Homo sapiens: one gene and its partners. The protein of the gene in region 4 interacts with the protein of the main gene of each other region in a pairwise test. Each region holds a gene or a part of one and is shown on either strand. Other genes may lie near its edges.

What was found.
Region 1: the proteins of ZNF669 (region 4) and ZNF330 interact in binary tests that used the Homo sapiens proteins (3 or more experiments, as listed by UniProt).
Region 2: the proteins of ZNF669 (region 4) and CEP70 interact in binary tests that used the Homo sapiens proteins (3 or more experiments, as listed by UniProt).
Region 3: the proteins of ZNF669 (region 4) and CDR2L interact in binary tests that used the Homo sapiens proteins (3 or more experiments, as listed by UniProt).

Annotation. Positions count from the first base shown.
Region 1 is NC_000004.12:141,230,092-141,235,670, reverse strand, and holds the end of ZNF330 (zinc finger protein 330), read right to left. Parts: intron 5,506-5,579; coding exon 5,401-5,505; intron 4,233-5,400; coding exon 4,186-4,232; intron 3,147-4,185; coding exon 3,029-3,146; intron 1,957-3,028; coding exon 1,682-1,956; 3' UTR 974-1,681; downstream 1-973.
Region 2 is NC_000003.12:138,569,763-138,578,038, forward strand, and holds part of CEP70 (centrosomal protein of 70 kDa), read right to left. Parts: intron 3,223-8,276; exon of another isoform or gene 3,171-3,222; 5' UTR 3,166-3,170; coding exon 3,097-3,165; intron 1,595-3,096; coding exon 1,504-1,594; intron 1,396-1,503; coding exon 1,272-1,395; intron 765-1,271; exon of another isoform or gene 737-764; coding exon 556-736; intron 1-555.
Region 3 is NC_000017.11:74,982,581-74,991,398, forward strand, and holds the start of CDR2L (cerebellar degeneration-related protein 2-like), read left to right. Parts: upstream 1-5,051; 5' UTR 5,052-5,463; coding exon 5,464-5,542; intron 5,543-8,818.
Region 4 is NC_000001.11:247,101,288-247,110,389, reverse strand, and holds the start of ZNF669 (zinc finger protein 669), read left to right. Parts: upstream 1-6,033; 5' UTR 6,034-6,190; coding exon 6,191-6,193; coding exon of another isoform or gene 6,194-6,451; intron 6,452-8,276; coding exon 8,277-8,403; intron 8,404-8,598; coding exon 8,599-8,659; intron 8,660-9,070; coding exon 9,071-9,102. UniProt on the Homo sapiens protein: May be involved in transcriptional regulation.

The DNA of each region.
Region 1 (5,579 bases), on a different chromosome or scaffold from region 4:
TTTTGACCCTCTTAAGCACTGATTCCAATCTCAAGCATATTCCTCCAACTCTTCGTAATTCTTGCAGTTCTTTTGGGGCATAGTCTTGTTTCCTCCCACTTCAGTTCCAGCACCTCAACTGAGTTTTGCTTAACTTTATCGTCACTTAACCCTAATTTTAGGCCTGGAGATACTAACTATAATGGCCTAGAGATAGGGCAAGTCTTGAAGAGAGCATGTTTCCCGAGGAAAGAAGCCTCTGCATTGTCATCCAGCCTGAGAATGAAGTGGGGAGTGCTTGCCCTTAACATGGAGGGGTGGGCTATGACTGCAAACTCAGAAATGCAGGAGTCTGGGGAGTAAAAATCTCCAGCACCATCGATTCAGATGTCTCCATCTAATTTGTCAGGGTCACAGGTTTTCCCAAGCAGTTTGCCGATGCTGGCATAATAGACTTGCCTTGGCTGGCAACTGTCTTTAAATTTTATCCTTTGAAACTATTAAGTCTCGGGCTTGCTCCTCAGTTTTTTCAAGCCGTCCTACTGCAAAAGGTGAAAAGCTTTTTCACATGCCACCAGAGGCCCTCTAACTTTGACACCTGGCTTTCCATTGCCTGTTATTGTCCTTGGCTGTTAAGTATGCTTCTATAGAACAAAAATGGCTTAACAATGGCCATTCAACCCTGTTATCCTCATAGCTACAATTTTCTCCATACATCTAAAATGTGAGGCAATCAGATATTGTCTCTCCTTGTACAACTACCCAATCCCTATTAAATGCCAGTGTTAAGTTGTAACAACTGGGACTTGTGACAGGACTGTCCTCCACCTATCAATGATGGGGTCTGGGCTGCTTATCTTTAAGTGTATACCACACAGTCTCTATTACCTATTTCCATATGTGTGAAAACTGAAGCAGTTTGTAAAAAAATTAGAATGCTTTCCAAAACAAACTGAAAATACAGAACAAAAAATTAAATATAATGTCAAAAGTATTTAAGTGAAATAATAGATTTATTCAAAGAGAAATAAAATGTCCTGGGTAAAGCTTCTGTAATAATACTATTTCTGATACTGTATCTCTGAAAAATGGCTAACTAGTCACCTTATCAATACATTTAAGGCATCAATAATAGGTACCACTGAGGACATACATTGTGAAGAAAGAGAAGAATAAGTCAAATACTAAAACATACTTATCATGACAACTCAAGGTGACATGAATATTTAATGAAAATTTAGAATATAACAACATATGACTCTCATTCTGTGGACATAAAAGGAAAAATACAGTAATTCATTTTACTCATTACATTTTACAAAATCAGCCCAATGAAGCAGTATTTTTTAATAAAAACAGTAATTTAATTTCAAACAAATATATTACCATCCTATTCCTTTATCTTGTATATATGTATCTAATTGGCAAAACATACTTTACTGAAATCAGTAACAATCCAATCCATGATACTTCAATTGCTTCGATCAATAAACATCTTAAATTTGAAACTCATTTTTCTTATGCCATAAGCCTGATTATCAGTTCTATAAAAACGCTACACCCTATTGCTTGGCCCATTAAGTGTAACTAGTCTTCTGCACAAGGCTAAGTGGCTAAGGTACTTTTGAACAACCACACACAATTCATCAAGCACACACACTCACTCCTGCTCCTCTCACACACGGCCACCAGAGCAGCTCCCCTAGTTCTCTTGTTCCTCATAGTGAGCATAGCCACTAGCATAGGTCCTTCCTAAATTCAAATTAGTAAACAAATCTGATGACTCAGTATCTGAATCCTTTCTGCCTTCATCTTCTTCCTCTTCATCATCCTCTGCTTCATACTCATCCTCCTCCTCATCGTGGTAGCTGGTATCACCATACTTATCAGATGAAAGGTTCTTCCAATAAGCATCATACCCAGAAGCTCCATCTCCCTCTTCACCTCCAGTCTGCCTGCCAAATTTCAGGGAGCGTGCTATAGAAGACAGACAAGTACAAGGCATTTTGTTAGTTCCAGTTCTCTACATTCTCATCTTCCTCTATAAAATTTCATGGATTTCATTGGCTGCTTCAATCCCAAATGAAAAAATAGGTCACATTTTCCTAATTTTTTCACCTGAGTCTATATACAACACCATAAAAAATAAAAATTACAGTGTAATTTCATTAAATCTAGAAAACAAATTAGACCAACAGACCACTCCAAAGGTATTAAGGCATGTTTAAAACAAAAATACCTTCCGTTTGGCCACTGACAGTTTATTTTCAAATCACATAAATCACAGAATACAGCTGATTTCGTATCAGTACATTTTTCTTAAGACAGCTATTTTACAATGCAGATGCCCTTAAAAACAAAGCCTGTCATTTCTTCTGCCTTAATAGTGACACAAAGTTCAGTGCAGAAGATCAGCAAAATCATCAGTCTCACCTCACCATGCAACTACATCTGTGATTAAACAAAGCAGTCAGTCACTTAGAATTATGGTTCCATTCTGATATGTTTGGTTAAGAGTCAAACTTCTCTTTAACAAAATTGCGAGCTGCATTACTATAAGCATGCTTATTCCTTCACAAAAAAAGTTACATAAAAACCATAAAATAATTTCCTATAGTAGTGCTATATTACATAAATAAACATAGGTGCTCAAATATCACACACCTAAGATAGCTTCAGAGTGAATTTGACTTCTAGGTACTTAAAATTACCACCACTTTAATATTAAGGAATTATAGCTACTCAACTATTTAACAAGGAAGACTCAACAAAAATAAAAAAAAATCACTCTTTATCTTAAATTTCAGTATTTGCTGTCATTAACTAAGGCAAATACCAAATATCAAAATGAATATTGGTCTATTTAAGTAAAACTGAAAAACTTTACCCACATATTTTCCTAAGCTGTAAAATTCCACTTGCTTAAAAGAACACATTCATCTTTTCAAATAAGAAGAGGCAATAAGAAAAATAGACCAAAAAAAAAAAAGATAAACTTTGTCTAAGTATGAAAGCAAAAATCACTTCCTTAGTATCTTAAGGGCCTTACTTGACATGCTAAGGTCCTTAGTCTCCTGAGTTTCATGCCCACATTTAGGACAAGGAGGCTGTTTTCCTTTTTCTTGCTTAAACACTTTGCTCCTTGTATGATCATCACAGAAACAAGCCTGTATAGGAGAAGCAAAATAAAGTAAATAAATAAAAATGTAAAAATATACAAAAAGACAGTATTCAGTGTTTTAAAGATATAGCTTTATTAAGGCAGTGAGATTAACAATTTTGTTGGGAGCAGTCACACTTCTCATTTCATTTTCTTAACAGAAATGGTTTTTGTCAGGACCCTTCTGAACAATGATCTAACAAAAGGCAGACTATATTGAGTATGACATGTAAGTACATTTAGCTGTTCACAAATATTTCAGTACTCATAAGGTCCCTGATGAAATGAAATAATGGTGAACAGCCTATTTACTCTCACACAGTGTATGGTCTAACTAGGGATGGAGACAGTGAAAAGGCAATTACAAGACACTAAGCACTGAACGGGAAGTGCAGAGGGAAGGGCACTAAAGCAGACATGGGATTTGGGAAAGGCATCTTAGAGACACGAAGTCTTAATAGCCATATGAAGAATGGGAGGGCAATAGGGTAAGCCAAGATGGAAAAGTATTCCAGACAAAGAAAACACAGATAATGCCTGAACACCATTTGGTAAAACTAGAACAGAGTTGGAAGATAAATAAGACATAGGGTTAGGAATATAAGAACTAGAGAAACGCTTCTGAGAGGAAGGGCATTGGCTGCATCTGTTTAGTAATCTTTGACGAACGAATGCTAGAGACTAGGCCTAAGGACACAGAAAAATTTGGAAATCTTTACCCAAACTCTTCTAAGCAGGTATATTTTGACATTAATTAAAATAGACTCTCATCATCTTGGTCAGAATGTTCTCCACTAAAAACACAGAGCCAGGATTCCAGAGAAATGTGCACTAGCCACAGCTCTACTAAAAGGTGACTGGATGACCATTGGAAAGTCATGTAAGCTTTCTCAACTTCAATTCCACAGTCTCAAAAATAAAAGAATTAGACTACATAATTTTAAGGTCCCTTATAAATTAATTATAGCTGCATATAAGCCAAGGACTGGTGGAGGGGTATAGAGATTAAAAACAAAATCTAAAAAGAAAAAAACGCATTGGTATACCTTACAACGGAGACATGAGTGCTGACCAAGCCGATTGCATGAAACACCTGTGGGAAATAGATTAATTTTAAAATCCCGTTATTTGGTTCTTAGAATTTTCTTTTGTCTTTTATCAAATCACTAAAAGCTTGCAATGGAATATAGCCTTATAGACAGCTGCCTGTCTTTTGGGTTCAAATGCTATAAAACACACAAAGCTCCCATGCTGCAAATAAAATAATTAAATTTATTATTATACATTCTGCAAAAGGCGACGAAAGGCTCAAAAATGCTATATACTTCGAGATGCTCTTTTAATCTGAGAATTTTATATATAAATATTGCAAGAATTATATACACATGCATACACATTGTGTGTCTATGTGTGTGTAGTATGTATGTTGTATGTATATCACAGAGATGACTTATCTACTTTAAATTTATAAATAAGTATAATAATTAGGATTTCATACCAGAACAAGAACCAAATTAAAGGAAGAGAATACCTGGGGAATTTCGGTCTTTTTCCTATAATAGTAACTACTATTTAAAAAGGGCTTTTTAAATGCCAAGTACCACATGCTATTGTTTTATATGGTGTCTCATTTCAATGAACCTTCCAAGAAAAAAACTATGTGTAAAGATGATACTATTACCCAGTCAGCAATGCTGGCTCTCAACTGGAAAATACGTGAGAATTTTGTGTATAGGTTAAATACAGGTGCCTGGCACCCACCACGGACTTAAAAGATAGAATCTCCAGGGATGAGGCCTGGACATCTACATTATTTTTAAAACCTCCACAGGTATTTTTGATATACAGTCCTGTCTAAGAATCACTAGAACCAACTAGCAGAAACAAACAGGGTGGTATCTCTTACGGGAGGGCATTTGGAAATGGGAAGGAAGGGTGAGGTTTGGTTTTTTATAATAATTTGAAGGTAAAAATGACATGTGGTACTCTGAACCACGAAAGGTGTAAGTCCTGCAATGCCTGATCAAATCAAGCCTACAAAATGAAAAACTGGCCCAACCAATATGCCACTGGCATCCCTGCTGAAAAATTTACAACTATATTCTGACTGTTCTGTTTTCTAGAAACAGAAAATAAAGACTGAGTTAAATTACAGTTCATGAGAAGCAGTATAAAAAAACTTGATTCCTTTTTCATTAAGATTAATAATTATACTATTCAGAATCTTGGGTATAAAGAACATCTAATACTTAAAAACTTACATTTAAATGTTTCTGCCTCTAAAACCTGGCAGCTGGCTTGATGCTCAAATTGATCATCTTCACAGAGAAAGTTATGGCAAAAAGAACAACTGAATATTCTGCCTCCTATTGGATTAAAAAAACACAAATGTAATTAAGATAAACTTTAATTTAAAAAAACTCATATCTATAATACTGCT
Region 2 (8,276 bases), on a different chromosome or scaffold from region 4:
GAGGCTGAGGTGGAAGGATCACTTGAGTGCAGGAGGCAGAGGTTGCACTGGGCTGTGATTGCGCCACTGCACTCCAACCTGGGTGACAGAGCCAGACGCTGTCTCAAAAAAGTAAACAAATAAACAAACAAAGTTGTAGATGCCTATTAGATATCCAGTAGAGATATCAAGTAGGCAGCTGGATATGAGTCTGGAATTCGGGGAGAGGACTGGGCTACGGATATAAATTTTGGATCCTATGTTAGATTGACATCACCAAGGGCATCAGAGTATGTAAGAAAGAGAAAAGATCTAAGGACTGAGCACTGGGGAATTCCAACACTAAGAGGTTAGGGAGATGAGAAAAAAAAACAGCAAAAGAAATTAGAGAATGATCAGTGAGGTCAGAGGGAAATAAAGGACATTCTAGAAACCAAGTGAAGAGAATTTCAAGGTAGCAGTGATAAGCCAAAAAAGGTAAAAACCACTGAATCAAACAACATGGAAGTCACCTGGGACCATAATGAGCTGTTTTAGTACTAACTAACCATCATCTAAGAATTCATAACTCAGTACCTGTAAAGTTTTCTGCTCCTTTTGAAGATCTTTTATTTTATTCTGTTGGTGGCAAGCCCTACTTAGTGATTCATCCTCCAATTCACCAATTTTGGATTTCACACTTTCCATAATTTGTTCCAAGTCATTAGCTCGTTGTTCTTGATTGGCTGCTCGGCTTTGCTCTAGCTGAAGTTCATTTCTAAGTTAATAGACATACAATTTCTTCCCTTAGTATTAAAAATAAATCGAATTACCAAGCATATCCATATAAGAATGTATTGCCTTTCTAAAGTTTCTTTGCATTCTCTTTATCCAAAATGCTTGGAACCAGAAGTGATTCATATTTCAGATTTTTTCAGATTTTGGAATATTTGCATCATACTTACTAGTTAAGCATCTCAAATCTGAAAATCCAAAATCCAAAATGCTCCAATAAGCATTTCCTTTAAGCATCATGTTGGTGCTCAAAAAGTTTCAATTTTTGGAGCCTTTCAGATTTTCAGATTTGAGATGCTCATCCTGCAACAGAAACTAATAGAAGAAATATAGGGTACCATTAAACATCTATGCTAAGCTATTACCAAAAGATTTACCTATTAAAATTTTACCTACAAAAATATTTTTTAGTTTAATATTTAATCAAAATGGGAAATTAAATTTCAAGATTTTTTTCAAGGCAGTTATTTTTAGAACGCATACAAACAATTCAAAAGAAATCTTTTCCATTTTCTCACCTAAGCTGTTGATTAGTTTCTATAAGCTCCTGTATCATGTTCTGTTGACATGATGTTTCTTCCACCAACAATTTCAAATTCTGTCTCATCCTTTGTGATGACTGTTTGTCAAAAATGATGAGATCTACATTTAAAAAGTATATAATACAGATAGTAAAAATAAAAGGCAAAAAAAATTTTTTAAGGAAAAATAAACTTTTTACCTTAAGCATCAAGAATAGGATCTAATTACCTTTGAGATCTGTTCTTTTGACTAGAGACAAAGGTTTTAAGCCATGCATCATCAATAGCACATTTATGCTTTCCCATTCTGCTTCTTCCTGCTACAATTACAGAAAGAGAAGAAAGGGTTAACTTTAGATATAAAGTGAAGAAATTCTCTCATATATAATTTCCTGCATTTTCAGAATAGAACTTTTTCTTCAAAAGTTTTAAGTATAAATGTTTATGCATATATAATATCCAAAAAACACATTTATTGTTTCTAGCAAAATTAGTAATAGACTAGAAGTATGTAAATAAGCACAAATTGTTGCATTATACAGAATACTCATATGTAGGCCTCAATGGACAAAACCAACAACAACAACAAAAACACCTTGTAATTTCAGTGAATCAAATAAATCTAAGGTTTTAGATTTAACTAAGCCAAACCAAGCCCTGCTCAGAATAAACAGCTGTAAACTAGGCTATAATAACTGGATAGTAAAGAAAAGAAAAGGTGAGTCACTTCTAAGTATCACTTTCTTTTTTCTTTCTTTTTGAGACAGAGTCTTGCTCTGTCACCTAGGCTGGAGTGCAGCGGTACGATCTCGGCTCACTGCAAGCTCTGCCTCCCAGGTTCACACCATTCTCCTGCCTCAGCCTCCCGAGTAGCTGGGACTACAGGCGCCCGCCACCACGCCCGGCTAATTTTTTGTATTTTTAGTAGAGATGGGGTTTCACCGTGTTAGCCAGGTTGGTCTGGATCTCCTGACCTGGTGATCCACCCGCCCTGGCCTCCCAAAGTGCTGAGATTACAGGCGTGAGCCACCGCCCCAGCCCCTAAGTATCACTTTCATAATGACTAGGGTCACAAAAAAATCAAAACATACCTGACTAGTTGGAGCCAATATTTCAGACAGCTCCTTGTCAAATGGACAAGGTCTAACTATAAAAAGGAGCCCGTCCATCTGGATAACTGACTCTAACAGAATCACCCTGAAAGACACTCTCAAAGTCAAACAAGTCTTTCTTTTTGACTGTTGACTTCTTCCTCCTTTTTTTTACATCTCCTCCCACTCATAACTTTTCTCTCATTTATGCTTTAGTCTTTCTGATCACAGAGTTTAACTACGTGGTAGACACAACTAAAATTAACATTGATGTTGTTTTAGGAGCCAAAAGCTCTGAGTTAGTGTCTCAGAACTTCTACTGTAACTCATAAAAACAAAATGCTCTATACATAATAAAGTCACATATTTTGAATGATTAACTTATACATATTGTTTCCTGATACCTCTTACATTTTAAGATAAAGTAATTGTAAATTCTGAAAATAGTTGGGAATGGCATTTTCCAAAGTACATGCTACAGAACACTAGTCTAATGAAATGTTCATCAAACTAGTGTTAAGTATGTATGAAATGCTGTATACTAAATCCTCCCTTTGGAGACTAATATTGTGAAGTCTTAGAGTAATTAAACCATTTCATAGTCTTTAACCCAGCATTTCCTAAAATTATTTGAGAAAGAATCCTTTTAAAGTCAAATTTTCCTGTTTGTAGATGTAGCATTCTTTGGCACATATTTTGAGAAGCAGTGTCTTAAAATATTTTAAGTTTACCTGTTTTTCAGTCATGAGTCTGTCTGATGGTTGACTGGAATCCTGGGGTTTAGGGGCTACCGGAAACATAGTTACTTTTGTAGAATCAAAAGAAACAGAAATTGGCAATTAAAAAATTTGAGTTGCCTAAATGAAAAAAGACAAAAAGTGCAAAAGGAGTTAAAGAAAAGTATATTTAAAAGAATCCACTACTCTTGCAGGGCAATTCAGGTCATTCCTGCGTCAAAACTTTGTGACTTCTTAGATAGCTGATTGTAAGACTCATTTGAATAAACCCTATCTTATAATGTTCTCCTCTGGAAATAAAGCATTCTGGGATTTTACACATATACCACACACACACATACACTCTGTCCTGTCTAACCCCCCACCACAGAATGCATAACTGGTACCCAAGAACAGAGGAAAGAATGGAGTAGAAGGAGCATTTGAAGAGCTAATGGCTAAGAAAAATTTGAGAATCAATGAAAGACATAAATCCACACATTCTAGAAACCCAACATATTGCAACTGGGATACAGTAAAAAAAAAAAAGAAAAAAGAAAAAAAAAGTCAGTCATACCTAGACACTAATATCTTCAATGTGCTGAAAGAAAATAATTGCTTATCTAAAATTCCAAAGCCAGTGAAAACATTCATTAACGAATAATAAAGGCAAAAGTAATATATTTTCAAACACATGACACAAAATAAATCTGAGAGTGTTCATTGCATCTGCTCTGTAAAAAAATTCTAAAGAAGCTGCTTCATGCAGAAGACTCCCTGATGGAAAAGCAGAGATGTAGAAAAAAATAGAGCAAAAAAATGGGCGAGTTTAAACACAGACTACATAATGAGATCTTGTGAAGTATAAAATGTACAATTAAAATGCACAGTAACAGAAATATATTAGCTGAGAGTAGGGTAAATGGAGTAACAGTGTTCTAAGTTTGTTTACAATGGAGGTGGACACTGGTAAAGGTATCTGTTAACACTGGGCTTTTGTATAAGTTAAGGATGCTTGAGAATTTCTAGGACATCCACTGAAGAACTGAACAGAAGTATATAATTTTCTAACTAGTAAAGGGGAAAAACAAGACTATAATGATGCATTTTTAAAAATAAACCCAAGGGCATCCAAGATGGCCAAATATGAAAGGCTTCAGTCTGCAGCTCCCAGTGTGACTGATGCAGAAGACAGGTGATTTCTGCGTTTCCAACTGAGGTACCTGGTTCATCTCGTTGGGACTGGTTGGACAGTGGGTGCAGCCCACAAAGGGCGAGCCGAAGCAGGGTGGGGCATTGCCTCACCCAGGAAGTGCAAGAGTAGGGAGATTACCCATTCCTAGCCAAAGGAAGCCGTGACAGACTGTACCAGGAAAATCCAGACACTGCTACCCAAACACTGCGCTTTTCCAATGGTCTCAGCAAGTGGCACACCAGGAGATTATATCCCATGCCTGGCTCAGTGGGTCCCATGCCCATGGAGCCTTGCTCACTGCTAGCGCAGCAGTCCAAGATTGAACTGCAAGGTGGCAGCCTGGCTGAGGGAGGGGCATCTGCCATTGCTGAGGCTTGAGTAGGTAAACAAAGCGGCAGGAAAGCTTGAACTGGGTAGAGCCCACCGCAGCTCAAAGAGGCCTGCCTGCCTCTGTAGACTCCACCTCTGGGGGCAGGGCATAGCTGAACAAAAGGCAGCAGAAACTTCTGCAGACTTAAATGTCCCTGTCTGACAGCTCTGAAGACAGCAGTGGTTCTCCCAGCATGGTGTTTGAGCTCTGAGAACGGACAGACTGCCTACTCAAGTGGGTCCCTGACCTCCGTGTAGCCTAACTGGGAGACACCTCCCAGTAGGGCCCGACTGACACCTCATACAGCCAGGTGCCCCTCTGAGATGAAGATTTCAGAGGAAAGATCAGGCAGCAATATTTGCTGTTCTGCAGCCTCTGCTGGCGATACCCAGGCAAACAGGGTCTGGAGTGGACCTCCAGCAAACTCCCACAGACCTGCAGCTGAGGGACCTAACTGTTAGAAGGAAAACTAACAAACAGAAAGGAAAAGCATCAACATTAACAAAAAGGACATCCACACCAAAACCCTATCTGTAGGTCACCATCATCAAAGACCAAAGGAAGATAAAACTACAAAGATGGGGAGAAACCAGAGCAGAAAAGCTGAAAATTCCAAAAATCAAAGCGCCTCTTCTCCTCCAAAGGATCGCAGCTCCTCACTAGCAACAGAACAAAGCTGGATGGAGAATGACTTTGACGAGTTGACAGAAGTAGGCTTCAGAAGGTCGGTAATAACAAACTTCTCCAAGCTAAAGGAGGATGTTCAAACCCATCACAAGGAAGCTAAAAACCTTGAAAAAAGATTAGATGAATAGCTTACTAGAATAAACAGTGTAAAGAAGACCTTAAATGACCGGATGGAGCTGAAAACCATGGCACGAGAACTATGTGACACATGCACAAGCTTCAGTAGCTGATTTGATCAAGTGGCAGAAAGGGTATCAGTGATTGAAGATCAAATTAATGAAATGAAGCGAGAAGAGAAGTTTAGAGAAAAAAGTAAAAAGGAATGAACAAAGCCTCCAAGAAATATGGGACTATGTGAAAAGACCAAATCTATGTCTGTTTGGTGTACCCAAAAGTGATGGGGGGAATGGAACCAAGCTGGAAAACACTCCTCAGGATATTATCCAGGAGAACTTCCCCAACCTAGCAAGACAGGCCAACATTCAAATTCAGGAAATACAGAGAACACCACAAAGATACTCCTCGAGAAGAGCAACCCTAGGACACATAAGTGTCAGATTCACCAAGGTTGAAATGAAGGAAAAAATGTTAAGGGCAGCCAGAGAGAAAGCTCGGGTTACCCACAAAGGGAAGCCCATCAGACTAACAGCAGATCTCTTGGCCGAAACCCTACAAGCCAGAAGAGAGTGGGGGCCAATATTCAACATTCTTAAAGAAAAGAATTTTCAGTCCAGAATTTCATATCCAGCCAAACTAAGCTTCATAAATGAAGGAGAAATAAAATCCTTTACAGACAAGCAAATGCAAAGAGATTGTGTCACCACCAGGCCTGCCTTACAAGAGCTCCTGAAGGAAGCACTAAACATGGAAAGGAACAACCAGTACCAGCCACTGCAAAAACATGCCAAATTGTAAAGACCATCAATGCTAGGAAGAAATTGCATCAACTAATGGGCAAAATAACCAACTAACATCATAATGACAGGATCAGATTCACACATAACAATATTAACCTTAAATGTAAATGGGCTAAATGCCCCAATTAAAAGACACAGACTGGCAAATCGGATAAAGAGTCAAGACCCATCAGTGTGCTGTATTCAGGAGACCCATCTCATGTGCAGAGACACACATAGGCTCAAAATAAAGGGATGGAGGAAGATCTACCAAGCAAATGGAAAGCAAAAAAAAGCAGGGGTTGCAATCCTAGTCTCTGATAAAACAGACTTTAAACCAGCAAAGATCAAAAGAGATAAAGAAGACCATTACATAATGGTAAAGGGATCAATTCAACAAGAAGAGCTAACTATCCTAAATATACACGCACCCAATACAGGAGCACCCAGATTCATAAAGCAAGTCCTTAGAGACCTACAAAGAGACTTAGACTCCCACACAATAATAATAGGAGACTTTAACACCCTACTGTCAATATGAGACAGATCAACAAGACAGAAGGTTAACAAGGATATCCAGGACTTGAACTCAGCTCTGCACCAAGCAGACCTAATAGACATCTACAGAACTCTCCACCCCAAATCAATAGAATATACATTCTTCTCAGCACCACATCACACTTATTCAAAAATTGACCACTTAGTTGGAAGTAAAGCACTCCTCAGCAAATGTAAAACAACAGAAATCACAACAAACTGTCTCTCAGACCACAGTGCAGTCAAATTAGAACTCAGGATTAAGAAACTCACTCAAAACCGCACAACTACATGGAAACTGAACAACCTGCTCCTGAATGACTACTGTGTAAATAACAAAATGAAGGCAGAAATAAAGATGTTCTTTGAAACCAATGAGAACAAAGACACAACATACCAGAATCTTGGAACCAACCCAAATGTCCATCAATGATAGACTGGATTAAGAAAATGTGGCACATATACACCATGGAATACTATGCAGCCATTAAAAAGAATGAGTTCATGTCCTTTGTAGGGACATGGATAAAGCTGGAAACCATCATTCTGAGCAAACTATCGCAAGGATAGAAAACCAAACACTGCATGTTCTCACTCATAGGTGGGAACTGAACAATGAGAACACTTGGACACAGGAAGGGGAACATCACACACCAGGGCCTGTCGTGGGGTGGGGGGATGGGGGAGGGATAGCATTAGGAGAAGTACCTAATGTAAACGACGAGTTAATGGGTGCAGCACACCAACATGGCACATGTATACATATGTAACAAACCTGCACGCTGTCATGTACTCTAGAACTTAAAGTATAATAAATACATAAATAAATAAACCCAAGGGTCAGGCACAATGGCTCATGCCTCTAATCCCAGCACTTTGGGAGGCCAAGGCGGGCAGATCACGAAGTCAGGAGATCAAGACTAGCCTGGCCAACATGGCAAAACCCCATCTTTACTAAAAATATAAAAAATTAGCCGGGTGTGGTGGCTCATGCCTGTAATCCCAGCTACTTGAGAGGCTGAGACAGGAGAATCACTTGAACCCAGGAGATGGAAGTTGCAGTGAGACGAGATGGTGCCACTGCACTCCAGCCTGGGTGACAGAGAGAGACTCTGCCTCGGAAAAAATAAAAAAATTTTTAAAAACCCAAAAGAAGAGAAACACAAGCAGACAAGAGGTAAAACAAAGAGAAAAGCACATGGTACTTGACAATATGGTAGATTTAAATCCATATCAGTAATTACATTAATCATGAATGGCTCCAGTTAAAAGAGACTGTCAAACTAGATTTTTAAAAATCAAGCTATATGCTGTTGAAGGGAAAAAAGACTTCTAAAACACTAAAAAGCCACTTAAAATAAAAACATTAAAGCAGTTAAAAGTAAGAGAATAAAGAAACAATTCTGGGAAGACGGCATGGCCACAGCCTAGTTTTTTCATCTCTGCATCCCACATTAAAACAGAAGCAACTAGAGAGCAAAGCTAAAAACCCAAAAGCAATAGCAGGTCT
Region 3 (8,818 bases), on a different chromosome or scaffold from region 4:
TGGAGGTGCTAGGGAGCTCTGGGAGCCTGGGCTGCACGCAGGGAAGTGCTCTCGGCCGCCGGGGTCACAAGACTCCAGGGCTTCACAGTGCCCAAGGCTTGGTGGACATCGAGCCCACCGGGGAATCTTTGCCATCAGCGCCGTGTTTTGATGCCCGCGGCAAGGAACACCACGAAATAGGTTTCCTGACACTCAGGTGAGGTGCCAGGTCCTGGGTTACCAAGGTCAGGTCAGGTGGTCTGTACTTGCCACCCCTGGGTCGGCTCTCTACCCTGCTTGACTACATCACAGGAAAAGGCTGGAAATGGATCCGGGGCTTGTTGACCTGTAGCTCATGGAGGCTGAAGAATTTCCTCCTTGAAGGCAGACCTGATTTTCCTCCTCACGGAAGAGTTTAGGCCAGTCATAGGGTGTTTTTCTTCTATTTATTTTATGTTATGTTATGTTATGTTATGTTATGTTATGTTATGTTATGTTATGTTATGTTATGCTATTTTATTTTATTTTAGAGACAGAGTCTCACTCTGTTGCCCAGGCTGGAGTGCAGTGGGGCCATCTCAGCTCACTGCAACCTCTGCCTCCCGGGTTCAAATGATTCTCCTGCCTCAGCCTCCTGAGTAGGTGGGATTACAGGCGTGCACCACCATGTCTGTCTAATTTTTGTATTTTTGGTAGAGATGGGGTTTCGCCGTGTTGGCAAGGCTGATCTAGAACTCCTGAGCTCAAGTGATCCGCCCGCCTCGGCCTCCCAAAGTGCTAGGATTACAGGCGTGACCCACTGTGCCTGGCTTCTTCTTTAGTAAATAAACTATTTTATCAAAGTATAATATATCTTCAGAATAGTGCACACATCTTAAGTGTACAGTTGGGTGAATTTTCACAAAGTGAACACACCTGTGTAACCAGCACCCAGCTCAGGAGATAGAATTCTCCTGAATGGGAGTTAGTGTTTAATGGTACAGAGTTTCAGTTTTACAAGATGAAAATAGCTACGGAGATGGATGGTGGTGATAGTTGTACGTTATAAATGTATTGAATACCACTAAACTGTACACTCAAAAATGGTAAATGGTAAATCTTATGTGTGTTTCACCACAATCGTAAAAAAAAAAAAAGAAAAAAGATCAGCTGGGTGTGGTGGCACAAGCCTGCAGTCCCAGCCATTTAGGAGGCTAAAGCAGGAGGATCACTTGAGCCCAGGACTTTGAGGTTACAGTGAACTATGATTATGACACTACACCCCAGCCTGGGATCCCATCTCAAAAATAAGTTTAAAAAATTTTAGAAAAAGATTCCCAGCCACTTAGAATTCTCCACATGCCTTCCCAAAGCCAAACACTATCTTGATTCATTTTGCCAGTTTTTAACTTTATTATTATTTATATTTTATAGAGACAGAGGGTGGCTGTGATGCCCAGGCTCGTCTCAAACTCATGGCCTCTAGTGATCCTCTTGCCTCACCCTTCCGAGTAGCTGGGATTCCAGACACATGAACTTTATTTTTATTTTTATTTTTTGAGACAGAGTCTCGCTCTGTCACCCAGACTGGAGTGCAGTGGCGCAATCTCGGCTCACTGCAAGCTCCACCTACCCAGTTCACGCCATTCGCCTGCCTCAGCCTCCTGAGTAGCTGGGACTACAGGTGCCTGCCACCACGCCCAGCTAATTTATTTTTTATTTTTTTAGTAGAGTCGGGGTTTCACCGTGTTAGCCAGAATGGTCTCGATCTCCTGACCTCGTGATCTGCCTGCCTCGGCCTCCCAAAGTGCTGGGATTACAGGCGTGAGCCACTGCACCTGGCCATGAACTTTATATAAAATGGAATCATGCAGTGCTGTGATAGAATCATAACCACTAAAGATATCCACATCCTAACCCCCAGAATCTCTGAATATGTTACCTTGCCCAACATAAGGGACTTTGCAGATGTGATTTAGTTAAAGACATTGAGACAGGGAGATTATGCTGTATTATTCAGTGTGCCCAGTTTAAGCAGAAGAGTCCTTTATAAGAGGGAGGTGGAAAAGGTAAGAGTGATGGGATGTGAAAAAGACTCCACCTTCTGTTGCTGACTTTGAAGATTGACAAAGAGGCCATGAGCCAAGGACTATGGGGTGGCCTCTAGAAGGTGCAAAAGACAAGGAAACAGATACTCCCCTGGAACCTCCAGAAGGAACACAGCTTCTACCAATGCTTTGACTTTAGCCAGTGATCCTTGTCAGACTTCTACAGAATTATAAAATAATAAATTTGTGTTGTTTCAAGCCCATTAAATTTGGGGTCATTTGTTACAGAAGCAATAAGAGACAAATACAGGTATTTACTCTTTGTGTCTGGCATCTTTCACTCAACTTTTTTTTTTTAGCCCAAGCCCATGACAGTAGATCATTGTATTTGTACTATATAACATTCCATTACATGAACATGCCACATATTCTTCGTCAACTGTTGATGGACATTTGTGTTGTTTCCAGTGTGGGCGCTTATGAATACTGTGGCTATGAACTTTCTTGTACATGTCTTTGGGATAAGGTATGTGCATATTTCTCTTGCACATATATAGGAATAGAATTTCTGGGTTATAGGGTATGCATGTATAGTGGCTGCTGTGATGTATCCCCAACTCTTTCAGAACGAAAGGACCTATTCCCTTAGCTGCTGGGAGGACCCCTGGCTGGCAGTCCCAGCTGCCAGGGCTCTGTGCAAACTAGTCTCAGCTGAAAAGAACTTATTTGGCCAAGGTCACACATGCCTCCTAGGAACGACCTGTGTCATTCAATGACTGGTTGATATGTAAGGGTGGGGGATATAAAGGCCCCCTCCCCCAATGATACCTGGAATAGCTTTGAAGGGTCACCCTGGATTCAAAGTTCTTCAGGGATCAGAGGAGGCTTTTGCAGAGGCTACATACCAACCCAGCTTCTCCCCCACCAACCCTGCTTCCCTCCCTTTCCTGCAGGTGTTGATCATGAGAGCACTCCCTAGTCAACTTTCTTTCTTTTTTCTCCCTCTAATCCAATATGATTGATATCCCTAATCAACTTCCTGCATGCTAATCTCCATCTCAGGATCAGCTGCCTGGGAACACAACCTACAACAGCTTACGTTATTCAGCTTTCATGGTTATCAAGCAGTCTTTTTTTTTTTTTTTTCCAAGACGCAGTCTTGCTCTATCGCCCAGGCTGGGTGCAGTGGCGCAATCTCAGCTCACTGCAACTTCCGCCTCCCAGGTTCAAGCAATTCTCCTGCCTCAGCCTCCCAAGTAGCTAGGACTACAGGCATGTGCCACCATGCCCAGCTAATTTTGTATTTTTAGTAGAGACAGGGTTTCACCATGTTTCCCAGGCTGGTCTTGAACTCCTGACCTCAAGCGATCCACCCTCCTTGGCCTTCCAAAGCGTTGGGAATTACAGGCATGAGCCACCACGCCCGGGCAGTTTTCTAAAGTGGTTGTCGTCCTATGTATTCCCTCCAGCAGGGTGAGAGAGTTCCAGTTGCTCAACATTCTTGCCAATACTAGGTATTTTTTGTCTTTTTTTTTTTTTTTTTTTTTTTTTTTTTGAGACAGGATCTTGCTCTGTCACCCAGGCTGGAGTGCAGTGGCATGACCACAGCTCCCTACAGCCTCAACCTCCTAGACTCAAGCAATTCTCCCACCTCAGCCTCCCAAAGTATCTGGGACTACAGCCGTGTGTCATTATGCCCACCTAATTTTTATTTTTAAATTTTTTTATAGAAATAGGATCTTGCTATGTTGCCCAGGCTGCTCTTGAACTCCAGGCTCAAGTGATCCTCCCAACCTCGGCCTCCCCAGAGTTCTGGGATTATAGGCATGAACCACCACGCCTGGCCTTTTTTTTTTTTTTTTTTTTCCCTAAAGCCACTCTGGTGATTGGGTAGTGATACCTCATTGTGGTTTTCATTTGCATTTTTCTGATGGCTAAAGAAGTTCAGTACCTTGTTGCATATTTATTCAGTTATTTGTGTATCCTTTTTTGTGAATTACCTGGTCAAATCTTTTACCCACTTTTCTACTGGGTTGCGTGCCTTTTTCTTATGACTATGCAGATGTTCTTTCTGTATTCTGGATACAAGTCATTCGTTGGGTATATCACAACATTATTCAGAGATTCTCAACGGCACCAGCACATTAGGGTCCCAATAAAAATGAGTTACGTGAATGCTTGAGTCCGAACACTCTTCTAAGGAAAGAATGCTTGGACAGATGCAAGTGTGTATAGTTTTAATGGGTATAATTGGATATAGGATATGGGTCCCAAGGAAAGGAAAACAGAACCTTGAATGCAGGTAACACACCCTCAAACTTTGCCACTTTCAGCCTGTGGTTTCTAGCCACAAGCACTTAAACACGCAGTTCCCAAAGGCAACTGTAAATTAGTATTCATTCATTCAAAGAATGTCGATGGAAGGTATCAATGACCAGCATGTTGTTTGTTTTTTGTTTGTTTGTTTTTTGAGGCAGAGTCTCCCTCTGTCGCCCAGGCTGGAGTGCAGTGGCGCTATCTTGGCTCACTGCAACCTCTGCCTCCAGGGTTCAAGCGATTCTCCTGCCTCAGCCTCCCGAGTAGGCATGCGCCACCATGCCCAGCTAATTTTTGTATTTTTAATGGAGACGGGGTTTCGCCATGTTGGCCAGGCTGGTCTCGAAACCCCTGACCTCAGGCGATCTGCCCGCCTTGGCCTCCCAAGGTGCTGGAATTACAGGAGTCAGGCATCGCGCCCGACTGGTGAGCAGCCTGTTCTAGGAAGTGAGTAGCCAGCTGTGAAAGAGAAACAATATTCTTGCTTCCAGGAGATCTAGGAGAGACGACAACTTCTAAAATAGCATAATTTTAGACATGAGACATAAACTGAATAGGTCGTAGGGGGAAGTAGGACGAAAGGGTTGATCAAGCAATTCCCAGACCAAGACACCAGGAGGGTCCCGCCCTCGGCCCCGCCTCCAGCTTTGCATACATCTCCTGATTGGTCGGCGGCGGCAGGCCCCACCCCGCGGAGCCGAGCTCCGCAAGCTGCAGGCGGGCTCCGCCAAGATGCAGCGGCGGCTCCGGTTGTCGCCGGGCGGGCCAGGAGCAGCGCGGACCCGAGCCGGGCAGGGGGCGCCCGCCACGGCACCCGCGCGCTCCTAGCGCCCCAGACCCGCCTGCGGGCCCGGATCCTCCTTGCCACTGTCCCACCCGCCGTCCCTGCCACTCCACCCTTTGTGTCGCCGCAGCCCGGTGCCCCCGGCTCTGCGGGACCCCGGCCGGGCCGGACCCTGGCAAAGCGCCAGGCCCCGCGTGGGCTCCCGGCGAGCGGTTGATGGCGAGGGGGCGCGGCGCGGGCTCTGTAGCCCGAGTTCCCGACGCTGGAGGCCCGGCCCGCCTCAGCCGCATTGTCCCGGGCCGCGCGCACCGGCCCTGAGCTGCGCCGCCGCAGCACCCGCCCGCCGCCCGCGGGGCCATGCGGAGAGCCGCCGGGATGGAGGACTTCTCCGCGGAGGAAGAGGAGTCCTGGTACGACCAGCAGGACCTGGAGCAGGGTGAGCGCGGGGGCGACCGGGACAGGAAGGCGGGGAGCGCCCGGTGACCCCTGTCCGCTTCTCCATTGTTGGGCGCTATCACCCCGGGAGGGGCTGGGCTGGACCGGGCGCGCCCGACTCGGAGGAGGGACGCGTCTGGAGAACCGGGACGTGGAGAGAGGGGGCGCTGCCGGAGAAGACGCGGACCGGACGGGCGGAGACCTGCAAAAGTGGGGGGCGGGGGGCGGTCTTCCTATTTTCCCAGACGACCGGGCATCCGTCATCCAGCTCGCCCACCCCGTCCTGGAGGCAGCAACTGCTCGGCCGCCCCTGGTATTGTTACGGGGCCTGAGCGCTAGCTAGGAGTCTTCTGAGGCCGGGAGGCGGCTCCTTCGTCATGTTTTGCTGGGAGGGTGGCTTGTGTGTAGAGGGAAGTTATCTCACGCCAAATCCAGCAGCACCCGTCCCTGACAGGAATTATGAGCTCTAAGACTCCTAGAAAGTTTCCCTAACTCGCTTCCTACTCAGGGAGAAGTGGTACCGCGTCTTTGCTGGTGAAGAAGCAGAAAGTCAAGTCTCCCATCTGCCTTCGAGAGTCAGGAGTCGCTTAGCCCTCCCCTGCCCGGTCCCCTTGCAAATGGCTCATGGTTTGGAGGGGGTCAGGTTCGGGAATCCCGGCCAGTGTGCCAGGCGAGAGACCGAATAAAGAGGGATACATCTCCGCTGCCCCCAGTTGCCATCTGAGGACAGAAAGGGCGACTGGAAGGGGGTTAGAAGCTGGTGATGAGGTGGCCGAAATGACATCACTGGGAGTGGGGGGTGGGGCTGTTGGGACAGAAAGGAAGAGGAGGCCTGCTGGAGTGGAGTCAGTTCTATCCTCTCCTCCCCTAAGATGCCTCCTTCTTGGATGGTGAGAGCTGGAAGGGGCGAGGAAACATGTCCAGGGAGAAGTGACCTTCCCATGGCCTCCAGCAAGCTGGGGGGTGTGGACATAAGTCTGCTGCAGTTTGTGCCATTGTGGCCTGCTGTGGTGTGCCCACACCCTGGTCTCCATCCACAAGGCTCCAGAGGGCTGGCTTTGCCCTGATGTGCAGCAGCTATCCGGATTCTGAAGCCCCTGACCTACTTCCCCACATGGCCAAGACTGGCTGGCAGATGAGGCTCTGTCCTTGTGCTGAGGACAAGGGTTAATCATAGCCTCAGGGGGACCAGGGTGGGACTGGGGATGCTGGACTAGGCCCTGCCATGGTCTGTGCCCTGGACTCTGGCCTCAGCCTCCTTGGCTGAAATGAGATACAGCTCCTCTCAAACACACACACACACACACACACACACACACACACACATCCACACATTGTGACAACCCCCTCTCCCATCCTGGGCAGTAAATTTTTCCATGAACACCTATTAGGCTCCCCTTAAGTACCAGACACCATCCTGGGAGCTAGGAATAGTCACAGCCCTGACCCTGAAGGTATACCCTGGCAGGTGAAGGAGGCAGGCTTGTAACTAAGTGTAGGTGGCACAGTATTTTTTTCTTTTTTCTTTTTATTTATTTATTTATTTATTTTCAGACAGAGTCTCCCTCTGTCACCCAGGTTGGAGTGTAATGGTGCGATCTCAGCTCACTGCAACCTCCATCTCCCGGGTTCAAGTGATTCTCCTGCCTCAGCCTCCTGAGTAGCTGGGACCACACCTGGCTAATTTTTGTATTTTTAGTAGAGACAGGGTTTCACCATGTTGGCCAGGCTGCTCTCAAACTCCTGACCTCAGATGATCCACCCGCCTTGGCCTCCCGAAGTGCTGGGATTACAGGCGTGAGCCACCACGCCCGGCTGGTGGCACAGTATTATGGGCAGTGGGGAGGGCTTCCTGGAAGAGCCAGGCTTAGAAAGAAAGATCAGAAACTGAGTTCTTGAGAAGATGGTTTTCAGGGAGGCCGATGCCAATATTGTTGCTGTCTCACTTAATTCCTGCACCCCTAATGAAGGCTTTGGCACTGTTCCTGGCCCAGAAATGGGAAAGGAGCCAGGGCATAGAGGTGGGAGATGCGCAGAGATGTGCAGCTTCTTGAGAGAGAGAAGGATCTGAGACTCCAGCTGCGCTGGGTGGCCGTGCTCTGGGCTGCCGGGAGGGATGGGCCCGGCAGGCCTCTGCTTCTCTGGCCCTGCTGGTCTGCAGCTGTTGGCCTGGCCTGGCAGCTCCAATGGTAGCCAAAGGCCAGGAACCAGGAGGGAAAGCAGAAATGAGACAGAATAAACTGGAGCTTCCTGCCAAAAGCTGGATGTCTGCTTACTGTGGGCCAGGTACTGTGCTGAGCCTGAGGACATAATCTCTGCCCTCAGAGGACTCCACGTTACATTAGAGAAGACAGAAATAGGACCAAACTCACAATGGCGTCAGAGTGAGGGGTTCTGCAGCTGTAGGCCCAGCAACGGGGACAGCAGAGACTTAGAAAGGTTTATGCCAAGGCCCTTTTGAGCTGGAGGCTCCCCAGGAGAGGGAGGGAAGAAGGCATTCCAGGGGGAAGCGATGCTTGTACCAAGTCATGGAGCGACATGAGAAGGCTGGAAAATAGGGAGGGAGGGGCTGAAGGAAGCATCAGACACGGGTTCTGTGGGGCATTCCCGTGGGCCCTGCCCGCCCTGTGCCCCAGGGGCCAGGCATGGAGAGCTGGATGGTGGGACGGAGCACGGGCCAAAGGCCAGCCATATTGGGTGTCAAAGGCCTGTTGCATCTCCCAACCCACAAATTCTCTTCCACCCAGCTGCTCCCTGGTTGCCTGTGAGTGGCCCAGAAATGGTTTTCTCAGCCAGCCACCTGGTCTTCCCTCCTGTCTGTTTCCTCCTGCCCAAAGGGCAGGCCCTGATTCCACTTTCCAGAAGCTTGACTGTAGAGATCCTGTTTGGCTTTGATGCTCTGTCCTGGTGGAAAGCAGCCGTGGGACAAGTGAGGTCCTAGATTCTCGCTGTGTTCCCTCTGCCCACTGCCACGAGCATTTATAAAAATAGAAAAAGCCAGCTGGGCACAGCAGCTCACACCTGTAATCCCAGCACTTTGGGAGGCCAAGGCGGGCGGATCACCTGAGGTCGGGAGTTCGAGACTAGCCTGACCAACATGGAGAAACCCCGTCTCTACTAAAAATACAAAATTAGCCAGGCGTGGTGGCACATGCCTGTAATCCCAGCTACTCAGGAGGCTGAGCCAGGAGAATCTCTTGAACCCAGGAGGCAGAGGTTGCAGTGAGCTGAGATAGCTAGCGCCATTGCACTCCAGCCTGGGCAACAAGAGCAAACT
Region 4 (9,102 bases):
GATGGTCTCGATCTCCTCAACTTGCGATCCGTCCGCCTCGGCCTCCCAAAGTGCTGGGATTACAGGCGTGAGCCACTGCGCCCGACTCTATTAATTTTTTTTTTATTAATAACCGCCATTGCTATTTCGTTCACTGTGTCTGGCTTCTCTACCAAGGCGCCGTCGGCATCTGTAGACTAAAAATAAACAGCATAAACAGACACAAACCAAAATAAAATTTGCAATTGTTGATCCACCTATGGTTTTAATCCACTTTAAAGGATTAGTGTTAGAAAGGCCATCAGCGGCTCCAGTAAGAATATCAGCTCCAGGCAACAGGCTGAGATGAGCCTGAGATGCCTCAAAAAGCTGTCTTTTCGGTTTAGCAATATCTAATGTTAAATTATCTTCTTTTCCTTGTAGGTGACGTCTAATCATCTCCCAATCGTGTTCAGTGGCATTGTAAGAGCTAGGAGTAATACAAAACTCAGAAGTATTCCAATCACATTGCATTTGAATTCTATGCTCCAAGCTCATAATCCGATCTCCCATCCAAATTACTGTTTGACGGAGATCATTAATTTGATTTGCCAATTTTTGATCTATTTGGCTTTGGGAATTCCAAAGCTTAGAATAATTTTTCTGCCAACTACCCACAAAGTCCGCAGTTTGAATAGAAGAGTGCAAAGCAACACCAGCAAGGCCCAGGACCACAGCTATTAAAGTAAATAGGAATCTCTTTGATCTATTAAGTATTCCTTTTAGTACTTCAGTGATAATATGTATGGAGGGACAGGCCTCCCAAGGTCTATTGAGGAAAACAGGTATCCAAACTCCTTCTCGGGCCCTAACCAGTAAAATGCTATTATCTTTATTAAAGGCAGAAATAATGCAGGTAAAAAGACGACAGTTGAGGCATGATATGGTTTGAGAGTCAGGTAAGATATTAATTTTTCCCACTGCCAACATAAAAGGAGGTTTAACACAACTCTGCAATGGGACCATCTGATTAGAGGTCATGGCTACAACAAATCGAAGTTTTTTACTATGGGTCTCTGTTTTACATTCTGCTTTCCAAATCCGAATTGGGCTTTGAGCCATCATTAATTTCCACAATTCTGGATGTTCTGGGCTTATAATTGGATCAATAATTTTTGGGCTTGGAGGAGCCATACCGTTCTCCTCCCACTTAATAGGGTAATTTGTTTCAATTCTTCTATGTAATTTTGGTGCATTATCTGGGTAGTCGTTTGCAAAATAGTCTCTCTACAATCTTCACTCTGTCCAGTACAATTTACTGCAAATTGTCCCCTAGGGGCCCAATCAATGATGATTCCATAGGAATTATTTTGTAGTACAGCAGCACTGTTTGCAATATAATCTTCCCAGGTTAGCACCTCTAGCTTTTCTGACCGTTTAATAACAGGAGGTTCTTATTAGGTTTAAATTTATTAATCTGGCGATGTGTCACAACATAGCCATGCTCAAGGTATTTAATAGTGTCCAAAGATTGAAATGTTCTTCCACTGATTGCATGAATAAAGGCTTTTGATCCGTTATGTGCAGGAACATAAACCATCCAACTTTGTGTATCATAATTTAAAAATCCTGCTGCTGGCCCCAGGCAGATGGCAGGAAAGCGATAACCAATAGAAACATTCATTAACATTCCTCCTCCTCCTCCTTCCTCCTATTACAAAAATAGGTGTAATTTTGATCTGCCTCTGCTACAGGAAGACTCACCACCAAGGAGATTACCGCCATCATAGCTACCATTAGATTACTGGTGGTCAGCGGCTTGTTCTGAGACCTCAGGTTCTCTTCTGCAATGTGAGCCAGTCTCTTCATCTGCCCCCAGGTCGGTGGAGTTGCTTGGGGAGTTTTACTGGTTTCCATCTGCTCAACAGAGATGTTCATCTGAGCCGTCTGACGAACTGGGGGCGCAGAGACATTCTGAGGTCTTTTCCTCTTCTTGGACTCTGTCTCATGGCACAGCTTAAGATGTCTTGTGGGTACCCAGACAGGAAGCTGATTCTCTCCTGGTGAAATACAAGCAAATCCTCAACCTCAACAAGACCCACTGGGGCCTTTTGTTTGGGCCAGTTTTTTGGCCATTGGTAAAGAGCTATGATCGACACATCTGCTCCTATGTTGACCAGACCCTCAAATTGTTTTCCTTGAATGGTGACCATACAAATAGGTCTATTGTCAGAGACTTGATTTACCCAATAGGCAGCCTTGCCTGCTGAATTTGTGCTTCCAAATCCTCCTATTCTTTTTTCTGAGCTTTCTCCTAACTTAACATACGGCAAAAGCAACAGTTGAGCTATTCTGTCACGTGGATTAGCACTCCAGGGAACAGTGGAGGAGATAACAATTTGAATTTCTCCGTAGCAATCAGAGTCCACTACTCCTGTATGTACTTGAATTCCCTTTAAGTTGGACCTTCCCAGTATAAGTCCCACCGTGCCATTTGGCAGTGGGCCATAAACTCCTTTTGGGACCTTCCTGGACTGCGGCTGGCTTCCCAAAGTGGGGAAGAGGGCTGGTTGAAACCTGCCTCAATCCATTTGGGAACACTCCATTTGGAGTCAGGGATGTCCCGTCCTGAATTGGGAATGCCCCGTTTTGAATTGGGGCCCGGTCCTGAGTTTTGCCTTTTTTGCCTCTTTGTACACTCTCTTTTTGTATGTCCTATCTGTCCACAATTATAGCAAGACCTGGGGAACACTCATGTGTTTTTTGTTACCCTTAGTCCAGCCATTGCCTGAGCAAGGAAGCTGGCCTTATATAAGTGCTCCCCAATGCCATCACAGGCTTTAATGTATTCACTTAAAGCTTTTTCCTCATTTAGATCTGCCTTTCCTTTAATAGGTCTAATTGCTGCCTGACATTCTGTATTAGCATTTTCATCAGCAAGCAGCTGAACGATCACTTTCCTGGCATGAAAATCTGAAATAGCCTTTTGAGCCGCATCTTACAAACGGGCAATAAAATCTGGATAAGGCTCCCTTGGACCCTGTCGAACTGAGTTAAAACACGGATAAGTTGTACCAGGGTTGTGAATTTTTTCCCAGGCTCTTAGGCATATAGTTCTGACCTGATCAACAACCTCATCACCCATTACCATTCTGTTGATTTAGAGTACCCCATGTGATTCCAAGCAATTGATCAGATGTGATATTAACGGGACGTTGGACTTGAGCATTTCTGCATGCCCGATTTGTTGCTTCATCTGTCCACCAGGTTTTAAATTGGAGAAATTCAGAGGGGGACGGAGTGGATTGGGCTAGTGCCTCCCAATCCATAGGTATTAAACGCCTGTTATAAGCCACAGATTGTAACAAGGAATGAACATAAGGAGAATTTGGCCCATATTGTCCAATTGCTTGCTTTAAGTATTTTAATATTTTAAAAGGAAGTGGCTGCCAGCATGCTTGAGCATGTTCTCTGGGCTCCTCAACTGGCGAATTAATTACCAGAAACTGCAAAGCATCCAAATCCCCCATTTCTCATGCCTGGCGAATGGATGACGGGATTGTCCCCGTGCCATAATTTGTATTTGGACCGGCTCGCAGCATTCCTCTACCACAATTAACAGGTGGTAGAGGATCATTCCCTGATCGTAATTGGCTGTTAGGCGAGCCTGAAGCTTCCCTTCGCCATAGTTATTGGTGGGGCCTGCAACAATGGGAGCGGCAAGCCGCGTCTCAGGCTCCAGTTCCAAAAATTTGTAAGGCTGAGCCGGGGGTGGCCATTCCAGACCTTCCCCTAAAGGCGAAGTAGGTGGCACTGTTTCTTTTATAAGTTTTTGGAGATTAGCATATATACCTTCCCGTTTCTCGGCCTTTTTAAAACTAGACTGTGATGGTTGATTTTGCTGATCATTAGACTCCTGATTATTAAAGTTTTCTATGTCATCCTGAAGCTCCTCCTCAGTGTGGAAGGGCTCCAGTGCTGTTTTAATTGCAGGCCACGCAGACCAAGCAAGAAGGGAATATCGTGGCCCTCTTGTTGTGCTCGTTTTAAGTCTGATCCGACCTTGTCCCAGTCTTTTACATTCATGGTTCCATATTCCGGGAACCAAAGAGAATACTTTTTTACCAGATAGAACAAAGATGGGAGATTTTGGGTACTCACAATTACCCCTCCGCGGCGCAGTAACTGCCGGACAAGGCTTCAGTAATTAGCAAACTTACTCTCAGCCTGACCCATAGTTTCCGGAGGTTACCCTGGAATTTTCCGAGCGCCCTACTTACCTGTAGAGCTTGAAGTGAAAACGTACTCGGGCGTCCTTTGTCAGTCATCCTCCACTTTCCACTCTCTGGCATTCCTTCACTGGATTATTTGTAGAGATTACCGGGAGCCCGGCGTTGGGCACCAGAGACCAGCCTGGGCAACTGAGGGAGACCCCATTTCTACGAAAAAAAAAAAAAAAAAATTAGGCAGGCGTGGTGTCCAGTGCCTGTAATCCCAGCTACTCCATGAGAGATTGGACAAAACCTGGGACCAGAGACTGATTTTCTTCTAAAATGCTTTCTCCAAAATATTTTTAAAAGAAAAGGGGGAAATTGGAAAGGAAAATGTTTTGAGCCCCCCAGATCACTAAGCTAAAGGGGAAAGTCAATCTGGGAACTGCTTAGGGCAAACCTGCCTCCCATTCTATTCAGAGTCATCCCCTGCTCACTGAGATGAATGCATATCTTATTGCCTCCTTTGGAAAGGCTAATCAGAAACTCAAAAGAATGCAACCGTTTGTCTCTCACCTACCTGTGACCTGGAAGCCCCCTCCTGGCTTCGAGTTGACCCGCTTTTGCTTCAGGTTGTCCCGGATCAAACCAGTGTTCATCTTACATATGTTGATTGATGTCTCCTGTTTCCCTAAAATGTATAAAGCTGTCAGATACAGTCAGTTTCTCTTCCAAGGTTTGGCATGTTAACTTTCTTGTTTTTTTGTTTTCGAACTCAACTTTCTTGTTCTCCATGCCTCCTTGCCCTTAGTTACTGTAAACAACCTTCCGTCAGTTCTAATCAATAACTCACATCTGTTCCCTTGGTTACCTGCTCTGCACCCATTTCTCCCTTGGAAACCGCAAGTCCCACCATTGTAACTCACATCCCCCTTCCCCCTTCCTTATTTGGGAAAATATTCACAAATAGCCAACCGGGTCAGTTTAGATCGTGCGGTCTGACCCCAGCCCATGCCAGAGGTAGGGACTGCGTTAGGAATAAAAACCCCTGCTTTCCTCTGTTCAGTGTGCTCTTGCGATCGTGATTGATGCGAGCAGCACGCTTCTGCAGAAGTAAATTGCGTTGCTGAGAAAACTTTCGCTTGAGTGCTGGTTTCACTTTGCGGCACCGAGCATTTCTCTCCAACAAAACCAAGCTGTGCTCTGACCACCTTGGGCACATGTCATCAAGGACATCCTGAGGCTGTGTCATGCATATGCATCCCCAACCTTGGCAAAATAAACGTTCTAAATACTCTTACCCCAAATGCTCAGGGAGACTGATTTGAATAATCATAAAACTCCAAGCCTGCACTCCAGCCTGGGAGACAGAGCAAGATTCTGTTTCAAAAAAATAAAATAAAATAAAAAAACTCCGGTCTCCCGCACAGAGGACACTGCGTGAATTACTCTTTCTCTATTGCTATTCCCCTGTCTTGAGAAATCGGCTCTGTCTAGGTAGCGGGCAAGGTGAACTCCCTGGGCAGTTACAGAACTGTCATTATATTGCTTCCAATTTTATATATATATATATATATAAAAGGCACAAATAGCTATAACTTGTATACAGGTTAAATGTGAATGTCCTTCTTGCATGGTCGGATCCCAGCGCAGGAAGGACGCACCGCCTACAAACCGCTAGGCCAAAAGCGGTCATTCTGACCTCATCCAGCCTCACGTGAGATCGCAATCTCCTGTCACTCAGGGCCTGAGGGGCGGGGCCTGAAGCCCCATCCAATCAGGGGCGCTGGGGTGGGGACCGTTCAATCAGGCGCGCCGCCGGAAAGGAGAGGGCGGCTTCCGGGATCTGCCTGGCGGTTGCTTTGTCTCTCCTTCGCCGGAGCCGGCTCTTCCTGTTAGTCTCCGCTGCTAGTTCTTGGCTCTGGGAGGCCCAGGTGGCTCTGCAGCAGCCTCTGCCACCCTGTGACCTGCGAGTATTGGGACATCCCTAGCTGACGCCAGGACACCCGGGAAGCCGAGGAATGGTGAGTGGACTGCGCCTGGCTTCCCGAAGTGGAGAAGAGGGCTGGTTGAAACCTGCTGTGGCGCGACTCGGGCCTCCACGCCATCGGCTCCGGAACCTGCGGACCGAGTCGCCGTGGCGTAGCCGGGGCTCAGTCCTCTTCTGTTCAGGGCCGGGCCGGGCGGGGCGGGCAGCGGAACCCCTGCATCCTGTCTGTACCTGCGGGCGCCACTTCCGCCGGCCGGAGCCCTGTCGGGAACCCCTCGCCTCCCCTATCCAGGTAGTGTGGTGACCACGGGAGGGTGATGCGGGAGAGCCCCGACTCGGTGTCTCGGTGTGCGGGGTTCCAGCATGGGAGGAGCTGTGGTTCATGGGGCTTCCAGTCCCACCTTTCTTCCCCTAAAATTAAGCCGAGGCTTTGTTAAAACGTTAAACCGTGTGTTTGAGCAAACGGCGATTCATAAACCAGGTACCGCAGTCATGGTTTGTGGTTTGGGGTCCACAGAAGGGGCGTAAATGAGAGGCTTTGATAAGGTTAATGAGGAAGCAAACCATATTCTTTTTTTTTTTTTTTTTTTTTTTTTTTGGAGACGGAATCTCGCCCTGTCGCCAGGCTGGAGTGCAATGATGCAGTCTCACTCATTGCAACCTCTGACTCCCGGGTTCAAGCGATTCTCCTGCCTCAGCCTCCCGAGTAGTTGGGATTACAGGCGCCCGCCACCACGCCCAGCTAATTTTTGTATTTTTGGTAGAGACAGGGTTTCGCCATGTTGGCTAGGTTGGTCTCGAACTCCTGACCTTAAGTGATCCGCCCGTCTCGGCCTCCTAAAGCGCTGAGATTACAGGCGTGAGCCACCGCGCTCGGCCAAAATATTTTTCTGTTTACAAACATTTTACATGAGAGGAAAGCGGAGAATAAACCATCTGACACTCTACTGTAAAAAAATCTTTGTGCCTCTCTTCATCTTTCCTAAGTGTGCATATTACCAAAATGTCTTTAGGTTGATGTCCCCCTGTGAAAACTTTACAGGGTGTTGTGTCCTCAGCCCTTGGTCTGCTTGCTCATCTCTCTGCTAATACTGTGCTGTCCTGAATATTTTTGGTTGAAAATCTTAAAAGTATGTTAGGCAAGACATAACTCTTTTTTTAGATGACTGAAAATCATTAGACATTTGTCATTTTTACTAGGTATGAAAAACTAGTTTTTCTTGCCTAAAAAAGCCTGATTTGGGAATTTATGTGATTTCACAGGAATAGCATCTGGAAGTGGTGACATTAATGTCATTTTAAAAAACATGTGCCATATTTCCTCTTATTCCATTCTGCCTTGACATTGTGCAATAGAAATTTAAAAATTGTATTAGTAAATTGTTAAATATCAATTATTGGTTTTATTTACTACTCAATTAAATTTAATAAGCCTATTCTCTCTTGGTGTAATCACATGGAATGGGCTCAACTCCCCAATTAACAAGTGACAGCACATATAAAATATTGTCTACCAGGGAAACTCATTAAACACTTAGTGTTCAGACTGTGTTTTGGTGTCTGGTTCCCTAAGCACCACTGCAGTGACACAAAATAATAGACCTTTAGCAGAAAAAGTTTTGGCAACTATATTGCATAAACCATTTAGATGCAGTGAGTCATTCTTATTACTTAGGTTGGTGGAATCCCTTTCAAAATGTAAGTTACTAATACAAACAAAGATTGAACTTTGTGAGCAGGCATTTTTAAGAATAAGTAGTCTTAGGACTGATATTATTAACTCACTTATGCACATCAGGTAGGACTTTATTATGGCAGATACTAGAAATGTACGAAGTGAAATTAAGAGGTAACCTAGCAGCACATCTTACTCCCTGGATTCTCTAATGAGATGGGTATTTCCACTTTGCTGTTGCCTTTTTGAATAGTTCAATTCTAGCATTAGTACTGCTGTGTGGGAGGGAGTATGTGTGAACAGAGTAAGAGTTGTGACAATCAAGTCATAGAATAAATGCTTGGAAATTATCAAATCATGTAAACAGCTTATGAATTGAGTATAGATTCCCAGTGCTGTCAGTCTCACCCATCCTTCTATCCACATGTGTGGAATGTTCTAGGACTCGGTGGCTTTTGAGGATGTGGCTGTGAACTTTACCCAGGAGGAATGGGCTTTGCTAGATTCTTCTCAGAAGAATCTCTACAGAGAAGTGATGCAGGAAACCTGCAGGAACCTGGCTTCTGTAGGTAAGAATGACAACACATTTCAGTTAATTACAGAAGTCTTTCCCTATCATCAGTGCTATTTATGATTTGGAATGTGGCAAGGGAATGATTTGGTGAATAAATCAGGCATGGGCACTGTGTACAGTGAACATTAAATCTAGTAATGTGTCTACAGTTTGTAATAATTCATGATAATTTTATGGGTCTGCATTTTAGGAAGCCAATGGAAAGACCAGAATATTGAAGATCACTTCGAAAAACCTGGGAAAGATATAAGGTAATTTGCACTGAGCAGAGGAAATAAAGTCCTCTGAAGGAATCTTAGCATGTCATGAACTTAAAAACAAGCAATCAAAACAAATAAGAGTCACTTGAAATTTATTTATTTTTAGAAAAATTTCACCCAAAATGTAACGTACTTCAATGTAGCAGTCAGTGTTTGCAAAAGAGTTTACTTGAAAATAGTACTACAAAACTGTGTATATGAATATTACTATTTTGGTCATAGCCATGCAGGTGGTAGCTGTGTTTTCAGTAGTAACCCATTTACTTTGAAATAATTCAGTCATGGCAAAAAAAAAAATGCATTTTCCCTGATATTGGTAGCAGTGTAAGTCCAAGACCTATTAATAAGTAGAAAGTTATTAATAAACCAACCAATAATAATGTGCTTGTCATTTTTTTACAGAAATCATATCGTACAGAGACTGTGTGAAAGTA